Linked DNA regions of Homo sapiens: region 2 is linked to region 1. The links come from fine-mapping of genetic effects on gene expression. A gene starts in region 1. The other region holds a variant in brackets. All regions are shown on one strand. Distances are between the middles of the regions. Region 1 holds the start of SLC28A3 (solute carrier family 28 member 3). Region 2 has its middle 28 kb from the start of SLC28A3.

The links. PIP is the estimated chance that this variant, and not a neighbour inherited with it, causes the effect.
Region 2: its variant is fine-mapped to the expression of SLC28A3 in esophagus muscle (GTEx, PIP above 0.99). The same link has a PIP of 0.9 or more in gastroesophageal junction, lung and testis.

Annotation. Positions count from the first base shown.
Region 1 is chr9:84,337,987-84,343,366 of GRCh38, forward strand. SLC28A3 (solute carrier family 28 member 3) reads right to left here and starts at 2,772. Exons shown (of 18, transcript NM_001199633.2): 1 at 2,588-2,772. The coding sequence starts at 2,647.
Region 2 is chr9:84,365,864-84,371,243 of GRCh38, forward strand. It overlaps a transcript of SLC28A3 not described here. Among named protein-coding and RNA genes, the nearest start is that of SLC28A3, 28 kb to the left of the region's middle. The variant C/T (reference allele first, on the strand shown) is at 2,126.

The DNA of each region.
Region 1 (5,380 bases):
CCCTTCTTTGAGGAACAGTCCAGATGAGAGCCTGTCCAGGTAATCCATAGATATGCATAACCATTGCACCTGCACCAGGTCTTACAGGCACAGGCCTTTTGGGAACCCATATCAGCATTTCAAGCTGTGAAAGTAGTTCTACTTAGTAAAATTAGAACTTTGGTCTACCAAGGGCACTCTTAATATTTGAAGAAGAAAAATGAATTTCTAGCACAATTCACAGACTAGGACAAGGTGAATAAGTAAGCATCCTAACTTATTTGGAAGTCCTGGTGGCATGTTAATGCATATTTAATAATGCGAGTGAAGTAGCACATATTTTACAATCAATTAATTTTCCTTAAAGAAGATAATGTAGCAGGAGAGCTGAATGTCAAACAAGGTAAGACTCATACTTATTAACTTGGCAGGAGTTATGAGGCCTCTGATTCTCTTGAAAGACAAATTGTCTTCACTATTTTGATTTTGAAATGTAGAAATTCAAATTTCAATCAATCCAATGAGTAAGGATGACAGGAAATTTTACAGAACTAGGAGGAAGCTTCCTTTCATTTTTCCTTCTTTTTATTGGGGCAGGTGTAGGGGGATGTTTCCCCCACAAAACAGCAGTTTTGCTAGAAGACAGTGAGGGATCACCACCGTTGTGTGCCCTCCTCCCTGGGAGCAGCCAGTTGCTGTGACATGGACCTTCTCTATTGCAGATATATTTTCTTGCTGCCATACTTCCTCTGACTCTATCCAATTCCATCCTTTCCATTCTCTGGAATCAGAATGGGCCCATGCTTTATGCTTTTCCCCCTCACTTAGCCCTTAGAGAAGAGATCAGGATGTGCCACCCTCCAAATGCCCACATTTTGGCACAAGAATATTTTGAACTGAAGGCTATGAAAAAGAAAGCAGACACAGAAAGAGCTCTCTGCCCTCCCCCATCCCCCATCTTCCTAAAAGCAGCACATTTATTGATATTTCCCTTGCACAGGTGTCCCGCTTGCTCATACAAGGAAGAGAGCAACCCTTATCACCAAAGACAGAGATGCCGCTGAGATAAATCTGCATGAACAAACCTCGATAAATTAACCCTTATCTTCCATTATTTCCACCTCCCACCCCCACTTTATTGTCCCTAAAAGCATAACCCTCTTTTCCTTTGTCTAGTCATTTCACTATTTGCCGTGCTTTGTTTTAATGGTATATAAGCTCCTGAGTCTATTAGGTTTTTCCGTTTCTTTTATGTGAGGCTCTCATACATGTGAGATTTTATTTTATTATTATTATTTTTTTGAGACTGAGTCTCCCTCTGTCAACCAGGCTGGAGTACAGAGGCACGATCTTGGCTCACTGCAGCCTCTGCCTCCCAGATTCAAGTGATTCTCCTGCCTCGGCCTCCCGAGTAGCTGGGACTACAGGCATGTACCACCATGCCCGGCTGATTTTTGTATTTTTAGTAGAGATGGGGTTTCACTATGTTGGCCAGGCTGGTCTCAAATTCCTGACCTCAAATGATCAGCCCGCCTCAGCCTCCCAAAGTGCTAGGATTACAGGCATGAGGCACCACTGCCAGCCACATGTGAGATTTTAAATATGAATAAAATTTGCGTGCCTTTTCTCCTGCTAATCTGTTTTATGTTGGTTTAATTTGCAGGCCTCAGGCACTCAACCTAAGAGGGTAGATGAAGTTGTTTCCTCTCCTACACTTGTGACCTATAAGTGGTAACCCGATGCCTACTCATGGAGATGGGCATCACTGTGACCATGGGACAGATGATCAAACTTGGGCTCTGGGAAGTTACAGGAATTTGTGGGTGCTGGAGTCTGAACTCCTGTCAAAGCCCTTTTACCTCCCTCTTTCCTTTCTTGGCTAGCACCTCAAAGTTTTGTTTTGCCCATCTAGCAGACCGTAAAGTCCAAGGGATTGTTGACACTTGCCGGTGCAGGCTTCCCATCTTCTCCAGAGCGCCCATGCTGAGTGTCAGCTAAGGAAAGGAAGCACACCTAAAAACAGCCCTGGAAATCCCCATCCCAGACCCAGTCAAAATAGCCTGGTGTTTCTGACAGGTCTCCTTCTATGTCTCTGCGGGCACCCAGCCTCGGGCTGAGCAGCATTAATCACTCAGTGAGTTTTGGTTGATGAAGTGAGACTGATTTGCGTAATCCAGCTGCTCTGGGGCAGGTACCGGGGCCATCTGACAGGGGCTCCAGGACTTGGCTTGAGTAAAAGGAACCCTGAGACACTACCCCAGCCAGGATCTAAATTCCCCCATTTTTCCCTTCTCACCAGTTCTTTGGAAAAGTGCCTGAAGATAAATAATGGACCCCTGCTGTGAGCCAGAAGGGAAAAAAGGCAAGAGAAGAAGGCTGTCTTGTTTCTAAGTGACCATAGGGATCACAACACATCGATTAAAAGAGACTTTTCAGGTTTGTCAACCCAGAAGAGCCCAAGAAGAAAAAATAATGGGCTTAAAGTGTGCCGTTAAAAATCGTATTGTCCTGATAATCTCCCTGCTTAGGTAAGAAACTTGCCAAGGGGCTAAGGAAAGGGCAGCTTTTCCACTGAAGGCCTTTAACATAAGAGGAAAGCTCTGCTCACCTGGAAGCCCACGTTGCTGTAGCCCTCAGCTCTGGGGGCTGCTGTACTCCTCAGCTCCATGCTCTTTTTGCTGCTGGCTGGCTCTGGTCTGGAGGTCCTTTGTACCTGGGAAAAAGCACCAGTCTCTGCTGATGTCAGAAAGCCACCTGCTGTTACAGGGACCTGGGCACAGCTTGCTTCAGTTTGGAAACTTCTGCAATAATCTCCTGAATGACTAGGGCTGACACCTGGTTGGGGTGGGGCAGAGAGGCGGGCGGGTTGGCGGGGTGGAGGCATCTAGTGCTGGCCCGCCCACCTTATTAATCTTTTCCTTTATCCCCATTTTTGGCATCCTATTTGCACTCCTGGGGAGAAAACTCTTGTGGTGCACAAAACAGAAAAGGACACTTTCTTTTTCTTTCTTTCTTTCTTTTTTTTTTTGAGATGGAGTCTCAAAAAAAAAAAGGCTGGAGTGCAGTGACGCAATCTCGGTTCACTGCAACCTCTGCCTCCCAGGTTCAAGCAATTCTCCTGCCTCAGCCTCTCAAGTAGCTGGGATTACAGGTGCATGCCACCACACCTGGCTGACTTTATTTTTAGTAGAGACGGGGTTTCACCATGTTGGCCAGGCTGTTCTTGAACTCCTGACCTCAAGTGATCCACCTGCCTTGGCCTCCTAAATTGCTGGGATTACAGGCATGAGCCACCGTGCCCAGCCAGAAAAGGACACGTTCTCTATAGTGCTTAGTGAAATCCTCTGTTTTCCTGTGGGTGGTGTTAAAGACTAGGAGTGGTGGTGGGGTGGAGGGTGAGTGAACACAGGATATAAGGTCATGCCGCCCTCAGTGATCACCTACTGTATACCAGGGATGGATAGATGGATAGATACATAGACAGATAGGTAGGTAGGTAAGGGTCTTGGCTCTTCTTCCGAACAACTCAAAATTCTATACTGAAGTACAGAAAAGTTAACAATTTGTTTAGTGTCATTTAGCTAATAAAGGGATAATGAGAATTCAAATTCAAGTTTGGTTAATTCCAAAACCTTTTATTACATCCCTGCTTCAGACTGGGCTGCTTTCAAAAATCCAGCTTACAGAAATGCCGATATGTGACAAGTAAATGAAAGGTGACCAGCTATTCAATTATCAAAAGTGAATAGAAGTGCTTTGTTTTCATAAAGCAATTCACTTTGCTTTATGAAAATATTAGCTGTAGAATTCTTTTAAAATAGGGATTTTCCCCCCTAGTACAATTTAAAATACTGCAAAACTGTGGACAAAAGAATGGAAAAGGCCTGGTGCGGTGGCTCACGCCTGTAATCCCAGCACTTTGGGAGCCCAAGGCGGGTGGATCACTTTAGGCCAGGAGTTCAAGACCAGCCTGGCCAACATGGCGAAACTCCATCTCTACTAAAAATACAAAAATTAGCCAGGAGTGATAACGTGCGCCTGTAGTCCCAGCTACTCGGGAGGCTGAGGCGGGAGAATCGCTTGAACCCAGGAGACACAGATTGCAGTGAGCCGAAAACGCACCGCTGCCTCCCATCTGGATGACAGAGTGAGACCCTGTCTCAAAAAAAAAAAAAAAAAGAAAAGAAAAAGAAAAAGAAAAAGTAAGAAAATACCAAGTATTATGAGTGGTTATTTCTCGGTTTTTAATTTTATGGGCAGTTGGTGTTTTTTTTTTCTCCTTCAAATGCTGCTGAGTTTTCTATAAAGAGAATGATTTACTTTTATTATTGTTAACCTAAAGGAAAAAACGGAGACAAACTTAATGTAAGTATAGAGTTTATTTGGTCTAAGTTTGAGATTGCAACTTGGGAGCACATATTCAAGTTGCTCTGAATATACACTTAGTAGCAGTTACAAGTAGATTCTTGTGTGTGTGTGTGTGTGTTCTGTTGCCCAGGCTGGAGTGCATGATCATGGCTTGCTGCAACCTTGACCTCCTGGGCTGAAGCTATCCTCCTGTCTCAGCCTCCCGAGTAGCTGGGACTACAGACAGGTGCCATCACCCATGGCTAAATTTTTTTTTTTTTTTTGGTAGAACTGGGGGCCTCACTATGTTGCCCAGACTTGTCTTGAACTCCTGGGCTCAAGCAATCTTCCCACCTGCCTTGGTTTCCAAAAGTGCTGGGATTACAGGCACTGTGCCTGGCCACAAGTGAATTTTAAAGGAAAAGAAGGAGTTTCTGAGTTGTTTACCAATTATTTACATTAAAATAACATAAGCTATTGATTGGCTATACATTGCTATTTGTATCACACATTCTAGGAACAGAAAGGCAGCCAGTCAGGAACAAAATTCCTTTAAAACAATTGCCCCTGGCCAGGCACAGTGGCTCCCGCCTATAATCCCAGCACTTTGGGAGGCCGAGGCAGATGGATCATGAAGTCAGGAATTCGAGACCAGCCTGGCCAACATGGTGAAACCCTGTCTCTTCTAAATACTACAAAAATTAGCCAGGCATGGTGGCACATGCCTGTAGTCCCAGCTACTTGGGAGGCTGTGGCAGGAGAATTGCTTGAACCCAGGAGGTGGAGGTTGTGGTGAGTCGAGTGGAGGTTGTGGTGAGTCGAGATCACGCCACCGCACTCCAGACTGGGTGACAGAGCAAGACTCCATCTCAAAAAAAAAACAAAAGACAAAAAACAAAAGCAAAAAAAAATTGCCCCCGGGCACAGGGTTGAGTGGTGACTGAAGTCCAACCCTCCGTTTCTCTGGGCCTGATAGATTTTGCATTGCTCACATAGCTGGGACTGTGTGAGTTATTTTTGTTTTCTCTTTATCAGTGACTGAGGCCCAGTCTCT
Region 2 (5,380 bases), 28 kb after region 1:
AACATGGAGAAACCCTGTCTCTACTAAAAATACAAAATTAGCCAGGCGTGGTGGCACATGCCTGTAATCCCAGCTACTTGGGAGGCTGAGGTGAGAGAATTGCTTGAACCCAGGAGGCAGAGGTTGTGGTGAGCCAAGATCGTGCCATTGCACTCCAGCCTGGGCAACACGAGTGAAACTCCATCTCAAAACAAAAAAACAAAAAAAAGATTGGGTGCATTCGGGGTGGTATGGCTGTAAACTGACTGTATTTTCAAACAGCCTGGCTTCAAGCTCACTAATTCTTTCTTCTGCTTGATCAATTCTGCTATTAAGATTCTGATGCATTCTTCAATATGCCAGTTGCATTTTTCAGCTCCAGAATTTCTGCTTATTTTAAACTATTTCAATCTCTGTGTTAAATTTGTCTGATAGAGTTCTGACCCTTCTGTGTTATCTTGAATCTCTTTTAGTTTCCTCAACACAGCTATTTTGATTTTTCTGTCTGAAAGGCCAAATATCTCTGTTTCTCCAGGATTGGTCCATGTTGGCTTATTTAGTTCATTTGGTGAAGTCTTGTTTTCCTGGATGGTGTTGATGCTAGTAGATGTTCTTTGGTGTCTGGGCATTGAAGAGTTAAGTGTTTATTGTAGTCTTCACTGTCTGGGCTTGTTAGTACCTGTCCTTCTTGGGAAGGGTTTCCAGATATTTGAAAGGTCTAGAGTGTTGTAATCTAAGCTATATCTGCTTTGGGGGACACCCCAAGCTCAGCAACACTGTGGTTCTTGCAGACTTGTAGAGGTACTTCCTTGATGGTCTTGGACAAGATCTAGGAGAATTCTTTGAATTACCAAGCAGAGACTCTTGTTCTCTTCCCTTACTTTCTCCCAAACAAACAGAATCTCTCTCTCTGTTCTGAGCCACCTAAAGCTGGGGGTGGAGCGACACAAGCACCTCTGTGGCCACCACCACTGTGACTGTGCTGGGTCAGCCCTGAAGCCAGCACAGCCCTGAGTCTCACCCAAGACCTTCTGTAACCACTTCCTGGCTACTGCCTATGTTCTGTCAAGGCCCTGGGGCTCTACAGTCAACAGGTGACAAGGCTAGTCAGGCCTGTGTCCTTCCCTTCAGGTCAGCAAGCTCCCCCAGGCCTTTGGTGGGTCCAGAGGTGCTGTCTGGGCCTCAGGGAGTAGAATGAAAACCTTAGAAGTCTACCTGCACTGTGGCTGAGCTGGCACTCAAACCATAAGACACAGTGCTTCCCACTCTTCCCTCCCTTTTCCAAAGGCAGAGGAGCCTCACTTCATAGCCACCACCACCGCAGGCCACGGGGAGTACTCCACAGGAAGTACTGCCATACTACCGCCAATATTCTCTTAAGGCCCAAAGTCTCTTAAGTCAGCTGGTGGTGAATGCTGCCTGGCCTGGGACTCACCCTTCAGGGCAATGGGCTCCCCTCTGGCCCAGGGCAGGTCCAGAGATATCCACAAGCCAGGTCCTGAAATATGTGACCCCAAAAGCCTGCCTGGTGCTTTGCCCATTTGTGGCTGTGCTGGTATCTGAAGCTAGCAAGTTTCAGAGGCTCACCCTAGGCCCTTGATTGAAGGGGTCCTGCCCCTCCACACCTGTGGGTGTTTCTCGTCAGGTGGAGACGAGAGACTGAGAAAAGAAATAAGACACAGAGACAAAGCATAGAGAAAGAACAGTGGGCCCAGGGGACCCGCACACTCAGCATGCGAGGACCTGCACCGGCGCTGGTCTCTGAGTTCCCTCAGTATTTATTGATTTCTATTTTTTACTATCTCGGCAAGGGGAGTGTGGCAGGAGAACAGAGTGATGATGGGGAGAAGGTCAGCAGGAAAACATATGAGCAAGTAATCTGCATCATAAATAAGTTCAAGGGAAGGTACTGTGCCCGGATGTGCACGTAGGCTAGATTTATGTTTCTCTTTACCCAAACATCTCAGTGTAGCAAAGAGTAACAGAGCAGTATCACTGCCAGCATATCTCGCCTCCAGCCATAGGGCGGTTTTCTCCATCTCAGAGTAGAATGAATGGTCGGCTTCACACGGAGACATTCCATTCTCAGGGACATGCGGGAAACAGAGGCCTTCCTCTTATCTCAACCGCAAAGAGGCCTTCCTCT[C/T]TTACTAATCCGCCTCAGCACAGACCCTTTATGGGTGTCGGGTTGGGGGATGGTAAGGTCTTTCTCTTCCCATGAGGCCATATCTCAGGCTGTCTCAGTGGGGGGAAACCTTGGACAATACCCAGGCTTTCTTGGGCAGAGGTCCCTGTGGCTTTCCACAGTGCATCGTGTCCCTGGTTAATAAAGGACGGAGAATGGAGATGACTTTTACCAAGCATACTGCCTGCAAACATATTGTTAACAAAGCACATCCTGCACAGCCCTAAATCCCTTAAACCTTGATTCAATACAGCACATGTTTCTATGAGCACAGGGTTGGGGCTAAAGTTACAGGTTAACAGCATCTCAAAGCAGAACAATTTTTCTTAATATGATCAAAATGGAGTTTCTTATGTCTTTCTTTTACTACATAGACACAGTAACAGTCTGATCTCTCTTCTTTTCCCCCACACTGATACAGTACCTGGGTATCGCTGCTGGTTGTTCAGGTCCCAAGCGCTCTTCATTTAGCAGATGCTGAATGCTGGCCGGACTGGGTCCTTTCCTTCAAGGTGGCAGGTTCACTTCTGACTCAGGGTGTGTCTAGAAATGTCATCTGGGAGCTGGGGCCTGGAATGGGGGCCTCACAACTCTGCCCAGTGCCCTATCCTGCTGTGGCTGAGTTGGCATCCAAGATGCAAGACAAAGTCCTCCCCACTCTTCCTTCTCTCCTCAAGAGGAAGGAAGGAGTGTCTTATGCAGCGGAGGGCTGTGCAGCCTGGAGTTAGAGGAGGGGCACCCCAGCTGGTGTCTCAGTATGTCACATGCCACACCCCTGCCCCCCCACCAAGTCCACTGTCTCTGGGCCCAGTTCAGCCCTAGGACATGAAGTCATGTCAGAAGAACTGCAGGCTGGTCAGGGTGGAGGAACTGGGGAGAGGGGGTAGAAGATGAAGTCATGCCAGGCGTGGTGGCTCACATGTGTTATCCTAGCATTTTGAGAGGCCGAGGCAGGTGGATCACTTGAGGTCAGGAGTTTGAGACCAGCCTGGCCAACATGATGAAACCCTGTCTCTACTAAAAATACAAAAATTAGCCGGGCATGGTGCTGGGCACCTATAATCCCAGCTACTCAAGAGGCTGAGGAAGGAGAATTGCTTGAACCCGGAGCGGGGCGGAGGTTGCAGAGAGCAAAGATCATGCCACTGCACTCCAGCCTGGGCGACAGAGCAAAACTCTGTCTCAAAAAAAAAAAAAAAGAAGATGCAGTCAGATGAAGATGGACTCTGTAGGGCATGGCATGATCACATTTACTTTTTTTTTTTTTTTTTTTTTGCCTAAGATTTGCAGCCCTTACGGCCTAGACTGTCTTTAAGGTTTTTTAGAGTCCCAGAGCACTGTAGCCCTCAGTGGTGAGGTTTGTGGGAACTCAAGTTCAGACAGCTGGAATAGGCGATTCCCCTCTGGCTAGGGCTGGTTTGAATGCTCCCCCAATAGGTGGGTGTTAGCTGAGTTTGGTTTAGTTTTCCTTTCTGCTCTAACAGAACAGCACTGAGTTCAATGCCTTACAACTGCTGTTTACTCCCTCCCTCAGTGCCCAGAGACGCGCTCCGCACCATGCTACTGCTGGGGTCAAGCGTGGAATGGAGGGGTGGGGGTACTTTGAGGGCTCATGTGATTTTTTGGTTCTTTTTTTTTTAACTTTTAAGTTCAGGGGTAATGTGCAGGTTTGTTATATAGGTAAACTTGTGTCACAGCGGTTTGTTGTACAGATTATTTCATCACCCAAGTATTAAACCTATTATCCATTTGTTATTTTTCCTGATCCTCTCCTTCCTCCAGCCCTCCACCCTCCAGTAAGCCCCGGTGTCTGTTGTTCCCCTCTTTATGTCCATATGTTCTCATCATTTAGTCCCCACTTATAAGTGAGAACATGTAGTATTTGGTTTTCTGTTCCTGCATTAGTTTGCTAAGGATAATGGCCTCCAGCTCCATCCATGTTCCTGCAAAGGATATGATGTCATTCTTTTTTATGGATGCATAGTATGCTATGGTGTATAGATATTGTATTTTTTTAATCCAATCTACTATTCATGAGCATTGAGGTTGAGTCCATGTCTTTGCTGTTGTTAACAGTGCTGCAATGAACATATGTGTGCATGTGTCTTTATAATAGAAGGATTATATTTCTTTGGGTATATACCCAGAAATGGGATTGCTGCATCAAATGGTAGTTCTCTTTTTAGATCTTTGAGGAATTGCCACGCTGTTTTCCACAATGGCTGAACTAATTTACACACCCACCAACAGTGTATAAGCATTCCTTTTTCTCTACAACTTCACCAACCCCTGTTACTTTTTGTGTTTTTAATAATAGCCACTCTGACTGGTGTGAGATGGTATCCATCGTGGTTTTGATTTGCATTTCTCTAATGGTCAGTGATGTTGAGCTTTTTTTCACATGCATGTTGGCCACATATATGTTTCTTTTGAAAAGTGTCTGTTCATGTCCTTTGCCCACTGTTTAATGGGGTTGTTTGTCTTCTTGTAAAATTTAAGTGCCTTATAGATGCTGGATAATAGACCTTTGTCAGATGCATAGTTTGCGAAATGTTTCTCCCATTCTGTGGGTTGTCTTTTTACTCTGTTGATGGTTTATTTTGCTGTGGAGAAGCTCTTTAGTTTAATTAGATCTCGTTTGTCAATTTTTGCTTTTGTTGCAATTGCTTTGGGCATTTTCATCATGTAATTTTTGCCTGTTCCTATGTCCATAATGGTATTGTCTAGGTTGTCTTCCAGGGTTTTTATAGTTCTTAGTTTCACATTTAAGCCTTTAATTCATCTTGAGTTAATTTTTGTATGTAGTGTAAGGAAGAGGTCCAGTTTCAATAGTCCGCACATGGCTAGCCAGTTATTCTAGCACCATTTACTGAATAGGGAGTCCTTTCCCCAGTGCTTGTTTTTGTTGACTTTGTCGAAAATTAGATGGTTGTAGATGTGTTGTCTCATTTCTGGGCTCTATATTCTGTTCCATTGGTCTATCTGTCTGTTTTTGTACAAGTACCATGCTATTTGGTTACTGTAGCCCTGATGTATAGTTTGTAGTAGTATAGTTTGAAGTTGGGTAGCGTGATGCCTCCAGCTTTATTCTTTTTGCTTAGAATTGCCTTGGTTATTTGAGGTCTTTTTTTGGTACCCTTTGATTTTTTTTTTTTTTTCCAAAATGGAGTTTTACTCTTGTCACCCAGGCTGGGGCACAACGGCGTGATCTTGGCT